Linked DNA regions of Homo sapiens: region 1 is linked to region 2. The links come from fine-mapping of genetic effects on gene expression. A gene starts in region 2. The other region holds a variant in brackets. All regions are shown on one strand. Distances are between the middles of the regions. Region 1 overlaps MAPKAPK2 (MAPK activated protein kinase 2). Region 2 holds the start of MAPKAPK2 (MAPK activated protein kinase 2).

Evidence for each region.
Region 1: its variant is fine-mapped to the expression of MAPKAPK2 in whole blood (TOPMed, PIP above 0.99).

Annotation. Positions count from the first base shown.
Region 1 is chr1:206,720,010-206,728,334 of GRCh38, reverse strand. All of the region lies in intron 1 of MAPKAPK2 (MAPK activated protein kinase 2), which reads right to left. Among named protein-coding and RNA genes, the nearest start is that of MAPKAPK2, 39 kb to the right of the region's middle. RefSeq lists an enhancer at 5,194-5,907. The variant T/C (reference allele first, on the strand shown) is at 3,314.
Region 2 is chr1:206,680,860-206,689,184 of GRCh38, reverse strand. MAPKAPK2 (MAPK activated protein kinase 2) reads right to left here and starts at 4,280. Exons shown (of 10, transcript NM_032960.4): 1 at 3,677-4,280. The coding sequence starts at 3,955. It overlaps LOC124904496 (a long non-coding RNA gene), which reads right to left. Exons shown (of 3, transcript XR_007066834.1): 2 at 7,595-8,010; 3 at 6,197-6,278. LOC124904495 (a long non-coding RNA gene) reads left to right here and starts at 4,379. Exons shown (of 3, transcript XR_007066833.1): 1 at 4,379-5,444; 2 at 5,642-5,834; 3 at 6,075-7,045. RefSeq lists enhancers at 552-1,113, 1,114-1,675 and silencers at 3,015-3,104, 3,515-3,604, 3,615-3,664, 4,125-4,304.

The sequences.
Region 1 (8,325 bases), 39 kb before region 2:
ATTGGAAAGGGGGCTAGAGAGAAGAGAGACTCCAGAGTCCATAGGAAAAGGCCCCTCAGCAATTACTCAGACCCAGCACAACAAATCCAGAGCAATATTCTCTCTACCTCTGTAGTTGACTTCAACCTGGCAACAGATGGCCTTGGAAGTCAGCCGGATGCCAGTATGAATCCAGTTATTACTAGATTTCCAAGCTTGAGCAAGTTACTTAACTCGTCGAACCTCACTGATGCCCCTTCTTCTCCCTGGACCAATTGGCTAGGGGTATTAAAGGAGGCTGGCTTCTCACCAGCCTCAGGGGTTCAATCTTGACCTGTCTAAGCCAGTCTCATTAATTCCAGTCCCTTTGCTAGTGACTGGCTTGGGAACAAGCCTACAACTCAACTGGCCAAGAGCCTTGTAAGAAATCTGCTGCCGGGCACGGTGGCTCGTGCCTGTAATCCCAGCACTTTGGGAGGCCGAGGCAGGCAGATCACGAGGTCAGGAGATCAAGACCATCCTGGCTAACACGGTGAAACCCCGTCCCTACTAACAATACAAAAAAAATTAGCCAGGCATGGTGGCAGGCGACTGTAGCCCCAGCTACTCAGGAGGCTGAGGCAGGAGAATGGCGTGAACCCTGAGAGGTGGAGCTTGCAGCGAGCCGAGATCACGCCACTGCACTCCAGCCTGGGCAACAGAGCGAGACTCCATCTCAAAAAAAAAAGAAATCTGCTAAGAGGCTTCTTAAAGGGAGCACAAGAAATGTACATCATCTCTCCTGCATATGGCACCTGGGACCATGACAGTCACATTATTACCAGTAAGGGGGGCCTAAGAGGATAAACCAATGCACTGAGGAAGGCAACCAGGAGAAATGGCAATCACCTGGATCCTCGCTGCCATCACCAGGGATCCCTCAGTACTTCTTTTTGACAAGATAATAAACTCTTCTTACTGTTTAAGCTGCTTTTCATGAAATTGTCTATTGCTTGGAGCCAAAAGCATCCTGATCTACCCTTCCTTTGTAAAGTGGGGATGGATAATGGCTTCTGTTTCACAGATTTGTTGTGAGGATTAAATGAAATATTTCCACAAAGCACCTCACAGAGTATCTGACATGCACTCACTAATAGCTGTCATTTTTATCACCAATTGTCTAAGTGCAAGCGCAGGTGCCAAAATAATTAAGACAAGGACACTCACAGATTTAGCATCTTCATGGGAAGTCAAGATGAGCCCTACACAGTCCACACTCCAACTGCTTTGGACATTCAGAGGGCTGGGGTGTCCAAGAGACATGCTGGGAAGGAAATGGACAGGCAGAGGGAAGGCATGAAGGCAGAGGGAAACGTGGGAAGCAGGTGCTGACTGACCGAGATGGAGTGGAGCTGGGGTGATACAGCAGGGAGGCCTAAGAACCTGCTGGAAAGTGTCTGAAGCTTGCAAATAAGATCAGATGGCCATGATGGAGCCAGCTTGCAGAGGGAAGGGAAGGACAAATGAGCATTTCCAACAAGAATGCTGGCATACATTTATGCTATGGCCCATGATATGTTGGGTTTTTCCTAACTGTACATTTGCCATTTTACAGGATGGGGAAGCTGAGGCTCAGAGAAGTAGCATGCCCAAGGCTAAGTTTCTGAGAAAAGGCAGAGCCAAGGTTGGAATCCAGGCCTGGTAGACTCCAAAGACCAAGTCTTTCCACCACACCACCCAGCTTTTAGAGGAGGCTGGAAGCCAAGATTTCTCAGACTGACTTTGCAGAGGCAATTCCCCAAACAGGTGACTAGAAGGAATCAATGACTAGATAACTCGGTCTCTCCCATGGAGTAACAGGTGGCCGGAGCCAATAGTTGCAGGAGGCAAGGTTCCCAGGAGGTCACACTGCCACCTTGTGGCCATATGAGGACACCTCATGGGTCTTGAGTTCTGCCACTTTCAACTTCATTAGGGTTTGTTTGTTTCTGAGACAGGGTCTCGCTCTGTTGCCCAGGCTGGAGTGCAGTGGCACAATCTTGGCTCACTGTAACCTCCGCCTCCCGGGTTCAAACAATTCTCCCACTTCAGCCTCCTGAGTAGCTGGGATTACAGGTGTGAGCCACCACGTCTGGCTAATTTTTTGGTATTTTTAGTAGAGACCGGGTTTCGCCATGTTGGCCAGGCTGGTCTCGAACTCCTGGTCTCAAGTGATACCCCACCTTGGCCTCCCAATGTGCTGGGATTACAGGTGTGAGCCACCATGCCCAGCCTTCAACTTCATTCATTTGGATGTACCAGGAAAAAAGTTTACTTTCCCATGCTCTAAGGGGAGCAAGAGAAGGCACTGGCCAATTTCCTTTGTATATAATTCAATCCAGCAAGCATTTACTGAGCTCCTACTATGGGCCATGCATTGCACTGAATGTCAAAACCAAATAGAGCAGTCCTGATCTGGAAAAGCCTAGGCTAGTGGGGGGCAGAAGAAGATATGAGGGGAGACACAGAAAATCCTTAAAATCCAGTGAGATTACATGCTGTAAGAGTGCTAAATTCAAAGGGTTCAGGAGGAACAAGGTTTCCAGAGCAGCCAAGCAGAAAGAACCTCGATCGCCCCCTACAGGCACACAGGAACTGGAGCCCAGAGGAGAAGAATCAAAGTTGTCAGATTTACTCAGAAGCAATGCCTGGTTGTAGAGTTACAATCAGGGAAGACTTGGCCCAGTCTGAAATTTGTCAATTTCTTCTTGCACAGCCTCACAGAGAGGTCTACCTTTCAGAGCCTGTGCCACATGCATTTAGGAGCGATGATACCTGCCTAGCCTCCCCCTCATAGAAACATTATGAGCATCTAATGAAATAATACCTCTAAAAGTGCTTTATTATCAGAAAGGCATTCATCACTGTCAACCAGTACCATTAATGCCACAGTACAGGGGGGTTCCTCCGTCACCACTGAGTTGAGCTTGGAGCATGTGGATGTAACCAGCACAAGTTATCACCAAGATTGTAGGCTGGGTTTCTGTCTTCAGCCCAGTGACGACCACCAGGACATCTGCCAACCAGAGCTGTGCTAAGTGAGGATGCACCAAGATCCAAATCTAAATGCATGCTCCTTAGCACCCCCTGAATTCCAAGCGCTCACTGCAACTTCCGCACTTTCTGCCCTGAACACGTTAGGAGTGCGTGGCACAAGGCAAAGGAGAGTTTGTGCAAGAAGGGCTAGGTTCACATCACACTTCCAGACTTGCACAAACTCTCTACCCATTAGAGGAGACGGATGTAGCACAGTGAACCTAGGCTTTGCAATCGCATGCATTTTGAATCCCAGTTCTGCACTTCCTAGCTTGTGTCA[T/C]GCAAGCCCACCTATCTTTCTGGAAAGGGTTTCCTCATCTGTAAAATTAGATTCAACTTCGTGAAATAATATCCTTGAAGGTGCTTCAGAAACTCTATATAGGGTAGTTTCCACTTTGAAAAAATTTACCATTTTGCATATTTATGCCTTATCTGCCCAACCTAACTGAGTTTCTAATGGGCAAGATCTAATTTGATTTCTGTTTACTCCCTCCCCTCTTCCTTCCCTCACCTAGTGGTTAGGAACTTCTGAGCTAACACCCCCTCATTCTGTTGCTTCTTCTCCCTACTAAACTCTCTCCCCCAGTGACTGAGGGTGAGCTGTCCTTTCCATCCTGAAATAAATTGGAAAAGGTAGTATTTTAAATTTCTTAGAGAAACTTAGCAAGAATTTCCCATGAAGACTGGTCATTGCACATCCTGCATTTGTATTCCAGAACTTAAATTAAATTTAACAAAAAAAAAAAAAAAAAGGACTGGTCATTGACATCCATCCAGGCACATGTTTATCAGAAATCCCTGACTGGATAAGAAAATCAACCCAAGCAATGAAAGCCCTTCAGATGGGCGAGGCAGGCTGGCTGACGTCCTGGGGGCACAGCCCTGAAGTGCCAAAGTGGCTCTGTGGACAAGTGTGGAGCGCAGAAGGCCTGGAGAGAGGAAACCAAGAATGTGCTAATCTGGAGTACAGGGCTAAGTAAAGAACAGCAGGGGAGGTGGCCTGCACTCCAAGCCAAAGAAGAGACAGGGAAGGAAAGCAGGACTCCTAGGGCACTGCCAGAGGCCACCAGCAGAGCGAGGCGGCAGGTCCACCCAGAAGCCAAGGCCCCTGCTCCTTGGGCATGGGCATGGCCATGGGCAGTGAAGGCCAACAGGCCCTGAACCATGCTCTGAGGACTGGAGACTAGAAGAAGGAAGGGTCTTCCCACTAAAAAGCCATAGATCATTAGTCAAAGAATGCCTGGAGGAATTGTGAAATATTTTAAGCCCAAACTAAGCCCCGGTCCAACATTGTGACTCACCTCAGCCCCACAGTTTGTGCCTGAAATTCTCTTACACGTAGAAAAGGTTAATGATTGCGTGTGCTCAGCTGCAACGCCACAGGCAAGGCCCCCTGCCAACTGTGGCAGGGGCAGGGGCCCAAGCCACAGAGCGCATTGCCTGGGAAGGAAGCTCTAGGACAGCGGCAGTGAGGGAGCTGCGGGAGCTGCCTAAATACAGTCCCATGCCTCTCTGTCTCTTCCAGCACCTGAGGGGAAGAAGGACAGGACCCCTCCCCCTATTCAAGGTATGCATGGTTCCCCTCATCTCCTCCTGCAAGTCTGCCATTGTGGAGCCACGTGGAAAGACTCAGGAGTGGTCAGCATTAGAAGCCTGGCTGAGCCAGAGGACAGGAAAGCAGCCGGCACCCAGGGCCTGATGTGCCACTCGTCAGCAAGGTGGACATGAAGACAAGACTGGGAAGGAGCAGGCCCCAGGCCCTCAGGAGGACCCCCTTCACAAGCGCCACTGCTCACTAGCTATGTGAACTGGGAAAAGTTTCCAACCCCTTTGTGCCTTGGTTCCCTTACCCATTAATAGGACAGTAATAGTCCCCACCTCATGGGCTTGCTATACAAGATGAGTTAATAGATGTGCATGATGTAAATAACTAAGAATAACGCTTGGCACGTAATAAGTACTGCATCCGTGTTTGCTATTATTATTCTGCTCCCCACTCCCCATGTGTTGGAGTCCCACTGGGGGGGGCAACTGGGATTCCATTACACCCATTTCAATGAAGGTGTTATTAATAGCTCTGGGCACTGGACAGACGGGGGACCCCAGGACACGGGGAGGAAAGCAGGCTGTGGCATCCCAGCCCTGTACACTCCCTCACTACACCACCTAAGCTGGGCGCATGTAATGAGAGAAGGAAGACATCCCTCCCCAAGACAGACTCTGATTCAGCGCCAAGAGCGATGCAAAAGGCTGATTCTGGCACCAAGTGTGTTGTGGGTGTGTGGTGCGGTATGTGTTGGCAAATAAGACCTCCTCTTCACTCCCAGGAGGCAGCTGGGGGTCGGGGGAAAGCCACGTGTGTCACACACTAACCCACCGTGCCTCCAGGCCAGGGCCACCCACTCTGGTTCCCGGACCACCGGCGCCTCTGCTGCACCACATGGAGGATGGCTGGCCCGGGTGCTCTGAGGGGTGTAAAGGAAAGAGGACTCGGGAGGGCAGCTGCTGCAGGTGAGCCTCAGCAACCTCTTAGCAAGGTGCTGGAGCAGGCTGCAGGCCGAGGGGGGCTGGCAGTGCTCTGTGCTAAATGGCTGCTAAGTACTGTTGGCCCTTGAACAACCCAGGTTTGAACTGCGTGGATCCATTTATACAGGGATTTTCTTCCACTTCTGCCAGCCCTGCAGCAGCAAGACCAACCCTTCCTCTTCCTCCTCCTCTTCCTCAGCCTACTCAAAGTGATTTTCTTAACGATGCTTATTTTCTTTAGCTTATTTTATTCAAGAATAAAGATATAATACACGCAACAGACAAAATATGTGTTAATCAACTATGTAATCAGTAAGGCTTCGGGTCAACAGTAGGCTATTATTTAATAGTAGTTCTAGGGGAATCAAAAGTTTTCTTTTGTTTCTTTGTTTTTTTTTGTTTTTGTTTTTGTTTTTGAGACAGAGTCTCGCCCTGTTGCCCAGGCTGGAGTGCAGTGGCACGATCTCCGCTCACTGCAAGCTCCGCTTCCCGGGTTCACGCCATTCTCCTGCCTCAGCTTCCCGAGTAGCTGGGACCATAGGTGCCCACCACCACGCCTGGCTAATTTTTTCTATTTTTAGTAGGGACGGGGTTTCACCGTGTTAGCCAGGATGGTCTCGATCTCCTGACCTCGTGATCCGCCCGCCTCGGCCTCCCAAAGTGCTGGGATTACAGGCATGAGCCACCGTGCCTGGCCTTTTTTTTTTTTTGAAATAGAGTTTCACTCTCATTACCCAGGCTGGAGTGCAATGGTGCGATCTCGGCTCACCGCAACCTCCACCTCCCGGGTTCAAGTGATTCTCCTGCCTCTGCCTCCCGAGTAGCTGGGATTACAGGCGTGTGCCACCATGCCCGGCTAATTTTGTATTTTTAGTAGAGACAGGGTTTCTCCATGTTGGTCACGCTGGTCTCAAACTCCTAATCTCAGGTGATCTGCCCAACTCAGATCAAAAGTTTTATGTGAATTGACTGCCCAACCTTTGCATTGTTCAAGGGTCCACTGTGCTTCAAATGGGTCATCTCACCCACTTCACCCCCACCCTGGGAGGAAACATCCTATTTTATAAATGAGAAAACTCACTGAGTCATTAGTTCACGACCTTTTGGCCAGTTGTCCCTGGCAGGGCTGGAGTTTGAACCCTGCTCTGGCTGCTCCTAAAGCCTCCTTTCCACCACCCCACAGTAAGGCAAAGAGTTCAAAATCTGCCCAAGACTGTCCACAACAGCAACAGCCAGAAATGGAGGCTGAAAATGCCTTAAAGTGCAAACCCTTTGATGTTAAAATTCTACTTTTAGAATTTCATCCTCAGGTATTAATCATAGACGTATCTTTAAGAAAATATACATCTCAAGAGTTATTTACCTTTACTAGAAATAGCTAACAAACTTATTAGTCTACTTTGCATTGCTATTAAGAAATACCTGAGACTGGGTAATCTGTAAAGAAAAGATATAACTGGCTTATAGTTCTGCAGCTGGTACAAGCTTGGCACTAGTATCTGCTTTTGGTGAGGCCTCAGGAAGCTTACAATCATGGTGGAAGGTGAAGGGGGAGCAGGGATGTCACATGGCAAGAGCAGGAGCAACAGGGGTGGGGTGCCACCCACTTTTAAACAACCAGATCTCCTAAGAACTCACTATCTTAAGAACAGCACCAAGCCATTCACGAGGGACCTACCCCCATGGCCCAAACACCTCCCACCAGGCCCCACCTCCCACACTGGGGATTACACTTCAACATGAGATTTGGGAGAAACAAACATCCAAACTATATCACAAACTTAAGGCCCAGAGATAAGTAACAGAGGTTGTTTTATGTAAAAGTGAGTTTAGCTACACAATCTACAGCCACTGAAATGGTGTTTCAGATGAATATTAAATGGGGAAATGTGGATTCCTGAGTGTCTACTAGATTCTCAGGTATCATCACTGTCATTGTCTAGAATACTATCCTATTTTTTCTTCTGCATCCCAAATCCCAATGTGTACTTTCTTTAAATTTCATTATCAAAACATGTCTGATGGTAACTGAAAGTTACAAACCCTTATGTACAGCATAAACTCAGTGCTCTATGGATATTTATTGGATCTGTATATAAAAAAAATAAAGGCATAGGGGCTGGCCATAGTGGCTCACATCTATAACCCCAGCACTTTGGGAGGCCAAGGGGGGCAGATTACTTGAAGTCAGAAGTTCATGACCAGCCTGGCCAACATGCTGAAAGCCTGTCTCTATCAAAAAATACAAAAAAATTAGCCAGGCATGGTGGCACGCACCTGTAAGCAATCCCAGCTACTTGGGAGGCTGAGGTGGGAAAATCACTTGAACCCAGGAAGCGGAGGTTGTAGTGAGCCTGCACTCCAGCCTGGGCAACAGAGTGAGACTCTGTCTCAAAAACAAAACAAAACAAAACAAAACAAAAACAATAAAGGCATTAAGACTCAATGAGTTGTTAATGGTAATGATCTCTGAAAGACAGAATCACAGATTTAATTTCCTTTATTATGTCTGTATTTTCTAGGTGATTTACAATTAGTATATGTTACTTTTTAAAGAGACAAGCTTAGCTCTCTAAATTTTAGTCAGAGGGCAGCCATCCACGTCTCAGGCCCTATGGCCATGGAGCATATCTCTGGGGCTTCCGGAAACTCTGCCAGGTGGAAGATCTGGAGCCAGAGAGGGACACAGGAGGAGACACATGAGCACTTGATCCCATCCTAACAGAATGGATCACTCAGTGAAACCCCGGAGTGCCTAGCATGTGC
Region 2 (8,325 bases):
GCAATGGAAAGATACACAGAGATAAGTTACGACAACATTCTATATTTTATAAAGCAGTAACATGCTTCACCTAATCAGAGTTGCACAGCAGAGAACAACGATACAGTCTTTAATTAAATTTGTTGAGCTAACACCTAAGGGTCACCATGACACAGTGAAGCGGCAAGCAGCTGAGGAACCCTCCCGGGGAATACAACTAATTAATACACAAGTGGGTTGAGACTAGGTGTCCTTATCAAAGAAGTAATACAGGCCGGGCGCGGTAGCTCACACCTGTAATCCCAGCACTTAGGCAGGCTGAGGCAGGCAGATCACGAGGTCAGGAGATCAAGACCATCCTGAATAACACAGTGAAACCCCATCTCTACTAAAAATACAAAAAATTAGCCGGGCATGGTGACGGGCGCCTGTAGTCCCAGCTACTCAGGAGGCTGAGGCAGAATGGCGTGGACCTGGGAAGCAGAGCTTGCAGTGAGCCAAGATCGTGCTACTGCACTCTAACCTGGGCGACAGAGCAACACTCTGTCTCAAAAAAAATAAAAATAAAAATAATAGAATTCCCATGTTCTTGTACAAAAAATAGTAAGTAAGGTGCCTATCAAATACTCTCTTAAAAGGGGGAGGGAGTGGTTAAAAAAATGCATGAAGCTACTGTTGAAGTTCCCCTCCAACTTTGGGGACTGTTCTCAGGAGCAGCAAATACCCATCCAGCCCCCTTCGCTGACCTCCCCTCTTGTCAGTCAGGGCCTGAGGTGACAGAACAGCTCCTCAGGCTGGAAGCACCCTGGAGCAGCAGGTGGCCATGTGCCTGAGCCCGTGGCTCAGTTAGGAAGTAAGTGGGAAGAAGCCTGAGACTGGGAGTCAGGCAACCTGGGTTCCAATCCTGCCTCTGCCAAGTGAATGGCTATGGTACCTTGAACAAGTCACTCCCTCACTCTGGGCCTTGGTTTTCTCTTCTGCAAAATAAGGGGGCTGGACAAAATGACCTTTCAAGTCCCTTGCAACTCTGACTGGAAGCATGACTCAGAACTTAGCAAAAGCAGCCAGGAGAGATGGTGAGGTGAGGTCAAAGCACCCACCAAAAGCATTTAAATGGGAGCTCTCTGAGGTGGAGGGAGAGAAGCAGCAGGGTGAGCTGGGACTCTTTTTCAAATGCTGATTTCACTTAACAGGGCTAAGAGGTCACCGACTATAGGCAGAGAGGAGAGCATCTAAGCAGCTGCCAGCTCCCATCAACTCTCAGGGCTGCAACATAGCAGACTTCTGAACCCCAGCAGAGGCTGGGCTCCTGCCCTCCAGCTCTGCCCTAGCCCCCAGCATTGGCCTCGGCACACTGTAGAATAGAGGTCTCCTCCCCTTTTCTCAGGCACCTTCCCAAGGGGGTAATCCCTCTTGCCCCACTCCATCTTCCTCTCCTGCTTTATAATCACTAGACTTCTGGTTTTGAAAACCATTTCACTACTCAGCACCTGAGGTTAATCAAAATTCAAGATCTAGAAATCTCTTTGGTGTGTGTCTCTGGAACAGCGTTCTTTGAACCAGATTCCCCCCACAGCTGTAATTATGTCTCAGCCAATATTTGGATATGGAAGTGCTGTTAACACTGCTGTCAGTCTCCAAATGCCTTGTCTCTCCTTTCTTCCTCCATTATTAAGTTTTAACACAAAGACGTGTGTGGGAAATCCACAATTTAACAGTTGAGTCAACTTAAAAGATCTGGGAGCAGGCTGCCTGTCAAAACAGACTGACTTCACTCTTCGCCCACTTCTAACCTGAGAGGGATAAACTATGAGTGTTATTTAACACGCTGCTGGATTTTTCCTTCCAAAACTATTCAAAGTAGAAAAATATGTAAACCTCTCTCTCGTTAGTTACAAGAGAAATCTGAATTGCCACTCAAAAGCATTTTATAGGATGATTTTGTGCGTGTGTCTATTAAACAGAATACAGAGCAGAAGTTGGGAGCTTTTGTTCTGAAGTCTTTACATAATATTCCAAATATCCAAGAGAATGAACAGCCAGTGTCCCCAAACTACTAATGGGTGAAGGCAGATGGTGTCTCAGAGGGGACAGCAAACACTCCTGTAAAGACCGTCTGTCACTTCCTCAATGATACAGGTTAACTGTGGTCAAACTGTATTCACCCAACTCCAGTCCCCAAGGTCAGAGCCATGCTCAATCCAAACAACTCCTCCTCCTCCTTTCCCTTCAGTTATGAGTAGGGAAAGAGAAGTCTAAGACACAAATGTTGAAGTGTTGAAGATACTTATCCCCTCTCCAACAGTCAACACTAAACAACAACCGAGATCCCAGAGCAATAACTTACAGTAGAAAGCAAAGCACTGTAACAGGGTTGAGTATGAGAGCAGCAGGAAAACAATTCTAGAGGCCTTAAAATCTAGAAATGGAACATGCTTGCCCCGTACAACCCCGAAGTACTGGTGTTTCTTTTAAAACATCTGATCGTATATTCCAATAGTTCCACCCATACCACATTTCTGAGTTTTGTACTTGACAACTGAAATACAGCTCGCTGTGGGGGCTGAAGGGGAAGAGAAAAATATAACACAGGAAGTATTTTTCTCCTCCTCCAATCATTGAGACACCCCAGGGGAAACAGACCTGAGGCGTCACCTTTAGAGATTGGTTTGACCTGAAACCCCTGTGAGAGGAAAACCTTGTTGGTGACCCTGCAAGACCGGCTCACACTTCACTGCGGACCCACCCATCTCATGAGACCTCCCAGTCCATTGTGTTTAACTTCTGAAGTCGATATTCTCACTTGAATCCTTATTCTCCCCACCACCACACCCCTTAAAGAAAGAAAAGGGATGGGCTCCCCCGGCTCAAGGATAATGTTTCCTCAGACTGCCCATCACGGCGCGAGTCCAGGACAGCAAGTGGCCCTCTCTAGGAGGCGGAATCAGCACGGGCCCGGCCGCGGGTTACAGACTCTGTTCACAATGATCAGCCGGGCCGCGGACACCGCCGGCCTCTCCCCGGAGCCGCCCCGCGCGGGCGTGGGAGGGGGCCAGCTGAGGGGGCCAGCTCCGGGATCCAAATAATCCCGCCCCCGCAGCCGGGGGACACCCAGGACCCTCCCGCCGCACACCTCCTGCCCGGCGCGCCCCAAGGCGGCCCGGCTGCCCTCGCGAGGCTCGGGGAAGTGAAATCACACATTCCGGCTCCCAAATAAGGAGCGAGGCTAAATAAACCTCTGCGATCCGACTTCTCCAAACCAACCGACCAACCGGCTCAATGAGTAATGGGCCTTTTGTGCCCGCAGAGAGAGAAAAAGGAGGGAGGAGAGGACGGGGAACCACCAACCCCAAAATCACTTCCTTGAGATGGAGTGAAATTAGCAGAAGTCCCGAAGCCAACCGTTCTGACTCGGCTGGATCCCGCTCAAACCCCAAAATGGCAGGGTCCCCTGAGTCCCCAGGAGCGGGTCCCAGGGCTCCCGCCCGGGAGCGGCCGGAAGCGGTCAGGGAGGCGAGGGCGCTGGGACCCGCCGCCCGCGCCGCACTCGGCACCGCCGGCCCGGCCGCCCCGCCCCGCCCCGCCGCGGCCACCCCTCCGCCCCGCGCCGCGACCCAGGCCGGGACGGGCACCCGACGCCGTGGAGCTCCAGGGCCCGGGACCGGCCCCGCCTCCCCTCCCCGGGCCCCAGACCTACTTTGAGGGCGAATTTCTCCTGGGTCCTCTTGTTGAAGATCTGCAAAACTTTGCCGTTGATGCCCAGCCCCAGGACCTGGCTGGTGACCTTGTAGTCATCGATGATGGCGTTCTTCTTGATCTGCAGGCCGGACTTGACGTGGAACTGCGGGAACTGCTGCGGGGGCGGCGGCGGCGGCTGCGCCGGGGGGTGCGGCAGGGCAGGGGTGGGGGGCTGCGGCGGCGGGGCCGGGGCGGGGAACGGCACCGGCGGGCTCTGGCCCTGGGAGTTGGACAGCATGGTGCCCGGGGACGCCGGGGCACAGGCGGGGGTGCCCGCGGCCGCCCCCTCCTCCGGCTCCGGGCCCCCTCCCCGCCGCCCCCCGACGGGCTGCGAAGTTCGCTCCGGGCTGGAGCCGGCTTCCCCGACCCGGCCCGGCTCCAGGCTCGGCGGGTCGCGGGGCTCCGTGGGTCCCACCGCGCGCCGCTGGCTCCCACCGGCCCGGCGCCCTCCCTCCCTCCCCCCGGGGGCCTGGCGCTCTGGGGACCGCGGGGCGGCGGGGGCCCGGCCGGGGGGAAGCGGCCGCGCGACAATGTACCCAGCCCCGGGCCGGCGGCCGCGTCACAGCCTCGTCTGCGTCCGGGGCCGGTCCTTAAAGGGGAGGGGCGGGGGGCGGGGCCTGGGGAGGCGTGGCGTGGGGGGAGGGGCGGGCCTTAAAGGGGAGGACGCGCGGTGCCGGGAGCTGGGAGGATCGCGGAGTAGGCTGGGGGCTGCTGCCTCGCGGACAGTGAGAGGGGACAGGGAGAGGGGACGAAGAAATGCTAGTTCTTAACCAAGGCTATGCAAAGGGAGAGGGGAGGCGTGTCAAAGGAGCTGCATAATTCAGATGGAAAATCCACTCCTCTCCAATTGTCTGGGCTTCTTAGCGGCAGCGAATTGGGAGAGGGGTGTATTTCCAAGGACAGGGATGGCTTGTAGGTATCCAGCTAGATGAGACCTCGTGGGGGTGGGGGGGAGCTGGAATCACAGGGGTCATTCATCCCAGGAAAAGGTGTGAGCCAAAGGCGGGCGTATTAAATATTTCCCTAACTTCAACATTTTCCTCTGAGGTTTTTTGCATCTCTTTTCTCATTAATTTATTGTTTTTCAGTAAAGACGTATTATTGTGTAACCAGGAGCACTTTAGTAATTATACCTTTGAACATGTTTTCCTGTAAATAAACTAAAAAGGATACAGGGTGGGAAGAGGATGGGTTGAGATTGGGGCCACCTGAATTCCCGCCATCCTTTGCCACGGATTGGCTGTGTGAGGCTGAGCAAGCCTTGCACCTCTCTCTCCGTGGGAAGAACAGCGAGACCTTTTCAAAGGTTGTGGGCAGAGTCAAAGGAGATAATGAAACTGAAGGGGAGGCCCTGGGGAATGGCTTCTGATTTCCGATGTGGAAAAATTAATCCGTAAGAAGTGGGTTAGCCCCGTGTATCTCAGGAAAAGCCCAGGGATCTAGCTGGACCCTGCATAGAAGCTGCCAGGAGGCCTCCACACACATTCTGATGGGGTTCGAGATGACCAAGTACATTCCTGCCGACCTCCTCCCACCTCTGACTGGCAGAACATTTGAGAAATGGCAAGCAACCCAGACAGGTGAACACAAAACCTCAGCTTAAGTCTTGGTAAGGCCAGTTAGAGAATGAGGCTTGACCTATGGCCACACATGCCCCCTAATAGGTCCCCCAAAACTCCAGAGAGAAGACAACACCCCCAGAAGTGGCCACTGGGGATAGAACTTAGGTAGGTAAGGGACAAGTGCAAATGTCTCTTCCCTCATTCACCTTTCCCAGAAGATGCTTGTGGAGGCAGGAATGAGGGGGAGGAGTGAGGGGTGGGAGTTACCCTCCCAACACTGTCCTTTCCTGGGGCAGGTAGGGCTCTGTGGACCAAGGAGAGACATGTTTCCCCCGACACAAACATATGCTCTTCTCAAGCAGCATCTGCTTAGCTCCATGTACAAGGTGCCGTGCTCAGCCCTGCAGCGGTGGATGGTGTTATCTGATGGGGAAGAAGACAGATAACAGTGGCACAGAGAGGATGGCAGACACCTTCCTAGGAGCCCGAAGCACAGGGATTCTCTTCTGTCTACAGCAGCCAGCAGCTTCCTCCCGAGTCTACAGGATAGATACGGTTAGACAGCTCCCCAGATGCCCCTGACTCTTCAAAGACAAAGACACTATCTAAGGCCACGGGGATAGGAAAACATCTTCACTCCACTACTTCTATAGCACTGCTATCACCTCCCCGAAGCACACACAGGAGATGCCCAAGGACAAGAGGAACGCAGGGGTGGGAAGGTGGAAGGCTCCAACTGCTCAGGCTCTGGTGGGGCTGCTCTGGAGTCTGAGTTGGTCTTTTTTTTCTTTGCAGAGTCACTGGAAGCTCCCTATGGCTTGGTGTTGAGGTATCACCTGCTTTTCTCCACAAAGCTAGAAAGAGAATAACTTCCTTCTGCCTTTTCAGAGGCAGCAAGGCACAGTGGTAAGATGACAGGATCTAGAGACAAATGAGCTGAAGCCAAGACTGTCCTCCAACTGGGTTACCTTGAGCAAGACATGTAACATCTCTCAGCATCTGAAAAAGAAAAGAAAAAAACAACAAAATCTACTTTCGGGGCTGAGAGAGAATAAAATGAAATAGTAATTATGAGAACACATCCTAAAGCATAAACTATACATTATCATGAAATATTAAATATCACCATTATTTAGACATTGCTGGCTTGCTCCTCTGCTCTGTGCTCATGGCCTACGGATCTATTCCTGATATCAAAGCTGCTTTCCTACCTAGCTGGAGCTCCAGGGAGATGGTGAGGCCCAATGATCTAGGAATAACAGGACAACTGAATTCCCACCTGAGAGTCCTCCCGGAGCTGCAAGAGCCAAATAGGCCTAGGGGGCACACAGGGACTCTGAGGGTACATACATAGTGGATAGAGATTATATGAACTGCACACACAGCACCAGAAAACACACACATATATGAACACAACACATGAGCACAATGTGCCATGTAACAGAATAAACGCCTAGTGGATGAATAATTGAGGAGTAAGATGTGCTAAATGCAGAAGCACTGGCCAAGAGATCCTGAGTCTTAAGTTCCATTCTGATACTGACTCGCTATGTAACCTCATGAGAGCCCCTTGCTCTCTCAGTTCCTTCCTTCTCATCTGCAAAATAGTGACAATAACATCTGCCTTGCCTACTTTGTAGGGCTTGTGCAAGGATAAAATAAAAACTTTCCTACAGGAAGCAGTCCAAAGTCCTATTTGTGTAACACCAGGCTCTTAGCCATCTGTAATGAACTACTTAATAAACAGTTTTTATGGATGTGTAAAAGCGCTTTAAAACTTGAAAGTCTATGCAAATAGAAAGTACTATTTTTATCTACTATTAACATGCAAACACATATGCCATGCAATATAGTACACACAAAGACAATTTAAGGACCTCAGGTACATAGAAATGGATTAATTATAATCCTTGATTCATGACACACTCTCGTCATTGGATCATTGATCCATGCAGCTCCACTTTTATTGTTAGTTAATAATTATTTTTAATAATGCAGTAAGCACCTGTGAATCCACTACCCAAAATAAAAACTAGAACTTCGACAATAATTTACATCTAACTAGATGATTCCTCCACACACACTCCCCCAACCCCTCCATTTTCATGGCCCAAGACCCCATCATCCTGAGTCCTATGTTCACCTTTCCCTTGCTTTCCTTTTTATATAGTTTTGTTTCATGAAGGCATGTTCAAAGGTATCATAAAAGATGAAACTCAAATCACCTTAAAAGGGAGGTGGCCAAGGGTGATGTTAGCAGCAAGACCAGGTTAAAATAAGAAAATGCCTTGTCACAGTTTCAAAGTATTCCTCACCTTCTCATGATGATGGTGATGATGATGTTGATGATGATGATGATGATGACGATGACAATGTTTTTTGAGTGCTTCCTGAGTGCCCAACACTGTGCTCAACCCTCTACCTGCATTGTCTCATTTAAATCTCATGATGATCCGTGGCTGAGATTGCTAGTTGGGTGGGCTAACACCTTTTTTTCCTCTCTTTGATAGTAAAGAGCACCCCATATTTAGCTAAGCACAAGACTGCCTGGAATAAAAATTACATTTCCCACTTGAGCAGCCTCCACTATAGCCGGTTACATTCATAAGATTAAGTTATAACCAATGACTTGTAAGTGGAAGTGGTTTATGGAAAGAAGTATGTCCTTCTTCTTCTCCTTCTCTTTTTTCTTTCCTGCTGACTGGAATAAAAATTTCACAGCTGTAGCCATCTTGGATGGTGAATTGGAGGTTACAGGTTGAGGAAGACAGAACAAAAGGACAGAAAGAGTCTGTATACTGGTGAACCTGGATCCATCATATCAGCAATGAGCCACCTACCCAGACTTTTATATGAAAGAACAATAAATGGCCTTCTTGTTGAAGTGACTGATGGTCTAGGTTTTCTATCATTCACAGCCAAACCTTATCCTACTCTTACACAGCCCTATGAGGTCTGTACTGTTATCCTCACTTATCTGTTGTATAAACAAGAAAACTGAGTCCCAGAGAAATTAAATAACTTTCTCAGAGTCATTCCACTAGCG